Regions from separate parts of the Homo sapiens genome. Here regions 1 and 3 are each linked to region 2. The links come from fine-mapping of genetic effects on gene expression. A gene starts in region 2. Each other region holds a variant in brackets. All regions are shown on one strand. Distances are between the middles of the regions. Region 1 overlaps LOC100507002 (a long non-coding RNA gene). Region 2 holds the start of RGS9 (regulator of G protein signaling 9). Region 3 has its middle 22 kb from the start of RGS9.

Region 1 (2,764 bases), 30 kb before region 2:
TGGAGTACAGGCACCTGTCACCTGCCACCTTGCCCACCAAGACCACCTCTCCAAGACCATTCCGGACCCAAGGAGTCAGTCATATTTTTCGTAATTGAGATTTATTACAATTTAAAAAGGAATCCCTTAAGTGAGTTTACAGGGGAAAAGGTTGGAGGAAAATTATTCTGTCCCCTAATGGGAAGACCCCTAAAAATGTTCAAGACACAGACTCCCCTCTTCCCAGAAAATCCCTCCTTTGTGCAGAGACGTCATCGCTGGAAAGCCCCTCTTGATTGTGCTTTTAGAAATAACTCCTGTTAATCTCCTTTGAGGGGTAGTTGCAAATTCCTCAGAGATTGATTTTTTTTTTTAAACACAAAGGGAAAGAAATGGAGTGACTGTCATTTTTATCAGAGAAGTTTAAATGTCTAACTGGCAAAGTAGGTACAACTCCGCCATCCACCGTTAGCTCCCTCTGCCTCACTACTAAGGAGATGGTTATTTTACCCGATGAAGTACCGTATTTATAATCTGAAAAGTTATGACTGAAAGGACGAGGATGCTTTAAGCCCTGTCATCAGAAACTGCATAACAGTGTGTGTGTGTGTGTGTGTGTGTGTGTGTGTGTGTGTGTGTGTGTGCTGGGGAGGACGGGGCTGTTGGCTGCTGCTGAAAAGAATCACTCCAGTAGCCATGGCTCCTCAGTCCCCTGGCCATCCCAGGAAGAGCAGGACCACCTCTCAGCATCCCCCAGTACAGTGTGGGGTTGTGTCTTTGCTCCCCTCTCTGCTGTTGGCCTCATGGCTGACCCAGTGGCCAGAAACACTGCCAAGTCCTGACACTGCAGAAAGCCAAGGATTGTGGCTCCAAATCAAGCTGAAATGAATAGCTTTTGTTCCAAAACAATTCTGTGAGCCAAGAAAGTGTCCATGCAGATAAAGCTTGCAGTCAGTCTTGCACAAGGAGCCCCAGCCGTGTTTTGCACGCTGTCTGAGTGACTGGCGCTGTGCCCGGAATGCTGAGTGGTGAGGCTATCCTCAGAGCCTTCCCTGTGCACCTGATCTTGGCCCATTTCTTGAGATTGTGGTTCAGCTGCAAATGCTTGTTTAGCAACAGAGATTGAAATAGGAAATCCCTTTCCTTAGTGTTGGCATAAGACATTGTTCCATACTCTTTCCCTCCTTGGGAAGATTGGAGCCTCCTAGCTTCAGGAGCAGGCTGCCTGAGAGGGAGGGGGCAATTAGGATTTTTCTGATTCAGCTCTCTTC[T/G]GATATATCCAGGTTAGTCTACACCTCCTTCCTGTCTACCTAGCCATATCATGGGTTCCTTCCCAAGTTCACTTCCTCTAGGAAGCATTCATTGACCATCTGTCTTAGTCCATTTTCTGTTGCTATAACAGAATGCTTGACATGGGCTAATTTATAAAGAAAAGAAGCTTATTTGGCTCACGGTTATGGAAGCTGGGAAGACCAAGGGCATGGTGACAGCTTCTGGTAAGGGATTTTTTTTTTTTTTTTTTTGAGACAGAGTCTCGCTCTGTCACCCAGGCTGGAGTGCAGTGGCCTGATTTCAGCTCACTGCAAGCTCCGCCTCCTGGGTTCACGCCATTCTCCTGCCTCAGCCTCCCTAGTAGCTGGGACTACAGGCACCTGCCACCATGCCTGGCTAATTTTTTGTATTTTTAGTAGAGACGGGGATTCACTGTGTTAGCCAGGATGGTCTCAATCTCCTGACCTCGTGATCTGCCCGCCTCAGCCTTCCAAAGTGCTGGGATTACAGGCGTGAACCACCATGCCTGGCCCCTGGTAAGGGATTTCATACTGCATTATAACACAGCAGAAATGGGGAAGGGCAAGTGAGTGCACGCAAAAGACACCTCAGGGCACTAACTCAGTCCCTTGGAAATGATCTCACTCACAAACAGCATTAATCCACTTATGGGGCTCTACCCTTATTACCTAATTCCCTTTTAAAAGGCCCCACCTCTCAATACTGTTACATTAGCAACTAAGTTTCCAACACATGGACTTCTGAGGGACACACTCAAACCTATAGAAGCATCCTGTGATCACAGTCCCTTTTCAGCTCCTGTGCAATTAGGATCTGTATGCTTCACATGAGACACATTTTTATTCTGTGCTGTGTATTGGTCATCTCTCTCTATATACTTTACCACCTCAGCTCCCAGAGGACAAAGATTATGTTGTTTATTTGTAGCAGTCATGCCACTGGATTCATAAAAAGTATTCAATTAAATCTCACTCTTTGCATTAGGTTGTCTAACTGAGTTTTTCTTATGTGTCTTTACTGTCTGGTCCCTAGAAGGCATATTGTGACAATGATAACATCTATCACTACCACTCCCACCCTATTGTCACTGTTCCTATATTGCCTTAGGGATTATATAACTGTTTCATATTCATTATTTTCATTTGATCACAAGCACCCTTTTAAATAGATAGGGCAGATATTAGATGTTTTTTTCCTTAGTGGATGAAAATACTAAGGTTCAGAGAGGTCAGTTAACTGGTCCAGTGTCACACAGCTGACATCATCTATTTTTCAGCTTCACTGAGGCTAGAAAAACCAGTGGTCTCATTCTGAGGACGGCTACGTGCATATATGTTAAAAGGACTTTGTGAACTGAGGGCTCATACAATGGTGCATAGAATTATGATTAATGGCAGCCAGACACGGTGGCTCACGCCTGTAATCCCAGCACGTTGGGAGGCCGAGGCAGGCAGATCACGAGGTCAGGAGATCGAGACCATCCTGGCTGACA
Region 2 (2,764 bases):
TGGCTCACTGCAGCCTCTGGGTTCAAGTGATTCTTGTGCCTCAGCCTCCTGAGTAGCTGGGATTACAGGTTGCTCCACCATGCTGATTGATTTCTGTATTTTTAATAGAGATAGGGTTTTGCCATGTTGGCCAGGCTGGTCTTGAACTCCTGACTTCAAGTGATTCACCCGCTTGGGCCTCCCAAAGTGCTGGAATTATAGGCGTGAGCCATCACACCCAGCCAAGAACCACTGCTTTAAAGGGACATTGGTTGACTGTGCCTTCCTAAGGTAAAGGCCTTCTTGTTTTCTTCCAACTTAAACATTTTATCTGCTACACTCAATAACCATCGAGTATGTTTAAGAGAAAGTGCTTTATATAACAAAGCAGAAAGGCTCTTGATAATAACTTAGAGGCTTCATCCTTGCATTTTTCTCAAGATGAAAACGCTAACATAATGAGCTGTCAAGGTAGGTTCATCAATTGTAACAAATGGGCCACTCCAGTGGAGGATGTTGATCATGGGGGACGCTGTGCGTGCGTGGGGAGAGGGGATATATGACGTGTCCCTATACCTTCCGCTCAATTGTGCTGTGAACCTAAAACTGCTCTAAGAAATAAAGTCTATTAAAACAAGCAAACCAGCCAGCTGCAGTGGCTCACTCCTGTAATTCCAGCACTTTGGGAGGCCGAGGTGGGTAGATCGATTGAGCCCAGGAGTTTGTGAAACTCCCTCTCCACAAACAATTTTTGTAAAAATTAGCGGGGTGTGGTGGCACGTGCCTGTAGCCCCAGCTACTGGGGAGGCTGAGGTGGGAGGATTGTTTGAGCCTGGGAGGTTGTAGCTGCAATGAGCCATGATTACGCCACTGCACTCCAGCCTGGGTGACAGAGCAAGACCCTGTCTCAAAAAAAAAGTTAAACAACAACAAACCCAACAACCAACTAACCGAAACACTAAGAATCAGAGAAGTAAAATATAATTCGCTTCATCCAGACAGCTAGCCCGGTGAGGACTACAACCTTCCTCTCTTCCTTCTTCACTTCTTTGCTCTCTCTTTTTAAACCCACATCTTAGCAATTCCTCTGCTATTGGGTCATTAAATCGCCACCTCTAATTTTTTTTTCTAAGCATTTATTGAGGGCCAAGCACTGTGTTACACATCTCCTCATTAAAATGGTATAGCAACCTTTTCTGGTCGATATTATGATCCCATTTTTCAATTTTTACTTTTGAGTGAAGGACATTGATTCTTAGAGATTGTAAGGAACTTGCCCAAGGCTGCCGGCTGGTTAGTGGCAGAGCTGGGATGGGAAAGTCCGTATTTTCCACCGCGCTGTATTAGTGAGGGCTCTTTGTGTCACTTCTGTGCATAACTCCGCCCCAAGTTAAAAGGCTCGCTGCTCTCGACAGGTCCTCCTCCTCCTCCCGCTAGGTCCTCCTCCTCCTCCCGCCAGGTCCTCCTCCTCCTTCTCCTCCCGGGGCCCTGCCCTGCGGGTCTCACCTGCTGCTCCGCGGGGTCCCGGCGGGGGCCGGATAGCGCCCCCTGGCGGCAGGTGGGCGCCCGCGCAGCGCATGCTAATGAGCCCGCGGCGCCGCTCGCGGATTGGCTGGCGCGGATTCCAGCTGCTTTCCAAGTCAGCGGCGCCTAGTGAGAGTCAGGGGGGCCCGGCCCGCGCCCTCCCCGCCCAGCCGCCTCCCCGTCGACGCCCAGGGCTGGGGCGAGCCAGGCTGCCTTTCGAACTTGGGGGGCTTCTCCTCTTGTCTCCCACTGGTGCTCTGGCTGTGAATCCATCCAGGGGCCAGGATGACAATCCGACACCAAGGCCAGCAGTACAGGCCGAGGATGGCATTTCTCCAAAAGGTAACCCTGGCCCCTCACCTGGACCCTGGGAGGAGGGCGGGGGACCGCATCTGCGAAGCGTCCGAGGACAAGAGGGGCAGGAGTGGAGAGCACCCCTTTGGGTCGATTTGTGCTGCTCGATTTTATTAAGTGACTTCTTTGCTGTGTGTGTCGATATTGATGGCTATAATAATTAGGTTTTCGTGTGCCCTGCCTGTAGTGGAGAATCTGAAGCCAGCGCTGATGGTCTGCGGGAGGTGAAAACAACCTGTTACTCGGGAGAGGCAGGTTCAGTTCAGGCTGTGGCAGATTTGAGACAGCCTGCTGATATTGTTGTAAGACGACCAGATGTGACATTGCCATTTTTGCCTTTTTTTTCTGATCCCAAACTGCACTATTTTAAAGTGTGTGTGTGTGTACACATAGACCATGAAAACGGGGTGATTTGTAGGATAAAGGGCCACCCCATTTACAATGCCCTGAGAGCCCTCATTTGAGTGTGTCTATCTGTGCATCTCCTGCTGTCTGCGCTGGCGGCAGAAGTCCCAACCTTTTCGCTTCCCTTGCGAATGCTTTCCCAGACAAAGTGACCGGGCACAGGGTGTGCACACAGGATGGACATGTGGGAGGTGGAATGCACCTGTGGGGTGATGTGTTTGGGGACAAAGTGGTTCATTTAGTTCTGAGCTTCTGGTATAATCACTGTCCGATGAGATCTACAGAGGATTAGGTCCCGGGTCACATCTTTGTCCTTCCTCCCACCCGTAGCCACTTTTCACAGCGTAGTGTCCATCTTCTTAGGCTTATCTTGTTGAGTAGAATTAGTTGAATGTTTTGTGACAAGCTGAGCTCTCCCTGAGCCCCTGGAGCTCAGCAAATTTGTATAGTCAGTGACCGCTGTCCTGATTTGCCCAGGACTTTCAATGCTAAAACCTGGACA
Region 3 (2,764 bases), 22 kb before region 2:
ATAAATTCTATCATTATGGGTACAGAATTTGATACATATACAACAACTAAGTCAAGTCTGTTAGTTGCGTTATTTAAATCTTCTAGATCCTTACTATATTTTCTTGCTCTATAAGTTACCGAGAAATGTATCTTACAGTCTTCCATAATGATTGTGGATTTGTCACTTTCTTCTTTGAGTTGCTTAATTTTTGCTTTCTGTATTCTGAAGTTATAAGTATGTATAGATTTGTGATTTGATATCTACTTGTTGGATTGACCCATTATAATATGTACCTTTTAATATCTAGTAATGCTTTTTGCTTCAAAATCTTACTTCATACTGCTATAGAATGCCTGGTTTCTTTTGTTAGACTTTTACAGTCTATCTTTCCTCATCCTTTTTCTTTAATCATCGATCTCCATGTATTTAAAGTGTCTCTTTTAGAAGTCACATAGAGTTAGGTTTTGTATTTTTCATCCAGTATGATAATCTTAGTCTTTTTCTTTTTTTTTTTTTTTTGACGGAGTCTCGCTCTGTCACCCCAGGCTGGAGTGCAGTGGCGCGATCTTGGCTCACTGCAACATCTGACTCCCTGGTTCAAGTGATTCTCTTGCCTCAGCCTCCAGAGTAGCTGGGATTACAGGCACATGCCACCACGCCCAGCTAATTTTTGTATTTTTAGTAGAGATGAGGTTTCACCATGTTGGCCAGGATGGTCTTGATGTCCTGACTTTGTGATCTGCCCACCTTGGCTTCCCAAAGTGCTGGGATTGTAGGCATGAACCACTGCACCTGGCCAATCTTAGTTTTTTATTTGGATTATTTAGTCTATTTAAATAATAGTAAAGTAATTATTGATATAAAGTTGGGTTTATTCTATTTGTTTTCTGCTTGACCCATCTGTTTTCTGTTGTTTTTCTTCTTTCTTGCATTCTTTTGGATTAAGAAAATATTTTCTATCATTCTATTCTTTACCTCAAGCTTGTTAGTTATACATTGTTTTGTTACATATTCTTTTTCTTTAGCTGTTATCCTAGAGATTAAACAACATGCAATCTTGACTTATTTCTGTGTAATACAAATTATTACTTTTACCAGTTCCCAAAACATTTAAAACTTTAGGAAACTTTAGTTTTATTTATCTCCTTCCTCATTTTGTGTTGTTGTTATACATGTTTAGTTCTACACATATATTTAAATTCCATAAGACATTATACCTATTGGGTTGGCAAT[A/G]AATATTCATTAATAATTACCTATATATTCATCCATTCTGGTATTTTTCTTCTTTTTTGAGAGACAGGGTCTTGCTCTGTCACCAAGGCTGGACTGGTGTGCTAGCACAATCATGGCTCATTGCAGCCTCAGCCTCCTGGGCTCAAGCAGTCTTCCCGCCTCAGCCACCTGAGTAGCTAGAACTACAGGCATGCGCCATTATGCCTGGCTAATTTTTAAATTTTTGTAGAGGTGAGATCTCACTATGTTGCCCAGGCTGGTCTCAAACTCCTGGGTGCAAGCAATCCTCCCACTTTGGCATCCCAAAATGCTGGGATTATAGGCACTCCTGGCATATATATATATTAAAATATATATACCAAAATATATATATATATACATTTTAATTGAAATATGGTATTCACTCAGAAAACATGTACAGATCAATACATTTTCACAAGCAGAATGTGGTACATATATTTTAAAACATTAAATTCTGTTTAAAGAAGCAAAATTTTGTATTTTAGGAACACATTACTTACTGTTCAAACAGATGGTTTCCTGAGGAAATGTGTGTGACTTCACACTATGGGGCTGTCTTTGTCAGCCCTCCCAGACTGCCCCATCTGTGACTTGATTTTTTTTTCTCCTTGTCAAGGTGTCCTCCTCAATTCAATTCACCTCTGCTTCAGGCCAACCGAGACAGGGTCCTTTTGTCAACCTTCTGGCTTCCTTTGCCCTGAGGGACGGAAGCCTTTCCCCACAACCCCCATCAGCTTCTCTTTCTGCATGTTGCTGATCTGGAGACCTGCTGTCATTTGTGGCTGCTCTGAGACATGGCCTGGTCATGGGGGCAGAGCCTCCCTTTGACTGCACCATTTGTTAGCTGTGCTTTAGCCTTCTGTGGAGATTACGACTGGAAAGGCTTGAGACATTGATGACTGGTTCAACAACAAGAGCTTGAACTGTATGGGAGGAAAGACTGAATACTACAATTTTAGCAGTCATTACTGGGGAAGCTGGCAGGAGGATCATTTGAGCCCAGGAGTTCGTGACAGCCTGGGTAACAGCAAGACCCTGTCTTATTAAATTATAATAATAATAAACTGAATTATGGACAAAACGAAGTTAACAAATTTTTTTAGCAGTCACCATTCCTTAAGCACCTACTGTCAGGTGCTCTGCCAGAAACTTCTATAGAGCATCTCATGAATCCTCAAAATAATTCTGTGAAGAAAATATCATTACTATCTGATATGGTTTGGCTGTGTCCCCAGCCAAATCTCATCTTGAATTGTAGTTCCCATAATCCCCATGTGTCATGGGAGGGAGCCAGTATGAGGTAATTTAGTCATGGGGGTGGTTACCCTCATGCTGTTCTCATGATAATGGGTGAGTTCTCACGAGATCTGATGGTTTTATAAGGGACTTTACTCCTTTTGCTCGACACTTCTCCTTCCTGCTGCCACGTGAAGAAGGACGTGTTTGCTTCAATTTCTACCATGATTATAAGTTTCCTGAGACCTCACGAGCCATGTTGAACTGTGAGACAATTAAACCTCTTTCCTTT

What was found. PIP is the estimated chance that this variant, and not a neighbour inherited with it, causes the effect.
Region 1: its variant is the best candidate, but not a certain one, in a credible set for the expression of RGS9 in thyroid (GTEx, PIP 0.55).
Region 3: its variant is the best candidate, but not a certain one, in a credible set for the expression of RGS9 in subcutaneous fat (FUSION, PIP 0.74).

The regions. Positions count from the first base shown.
Region 1 is chr17:65,105,824-65,108,587 of GRCh38, forward strand. All of the region lies in intron 2 of LOC100507002 (a long non-coding RNA gene), which reads left to right. Among named protein-coding and RNA genes, the nearest start is that of RGS9, 30 kb to the right of the region's middle. The variant T/G (reference allele first, on the strand shown) is at 1,251.
Region 2 is chr17:65,135,753-65,138,516 of GRCh38, forward strand. RGS9 (regulator of G protein signaling 9) reads left to right here and starts at 1,618. Exons shown (of 19, transcript NM_003835.4): 1 at 1,618-1,845. The coding sequence starts at 1,789. RefSeq lists a silencer at 1,308-1,807.
Region 3 is chr17:65,114,119-65,116,882 of GRCh38, forward strand. No RefSeq gene overlaps it. Among named protein-coding and RNA genes, the nearest start is that of RGS9, 22 kb to the right of the region's middle. The variant A/G (reference allele first, on the strand shown) is at 1,216.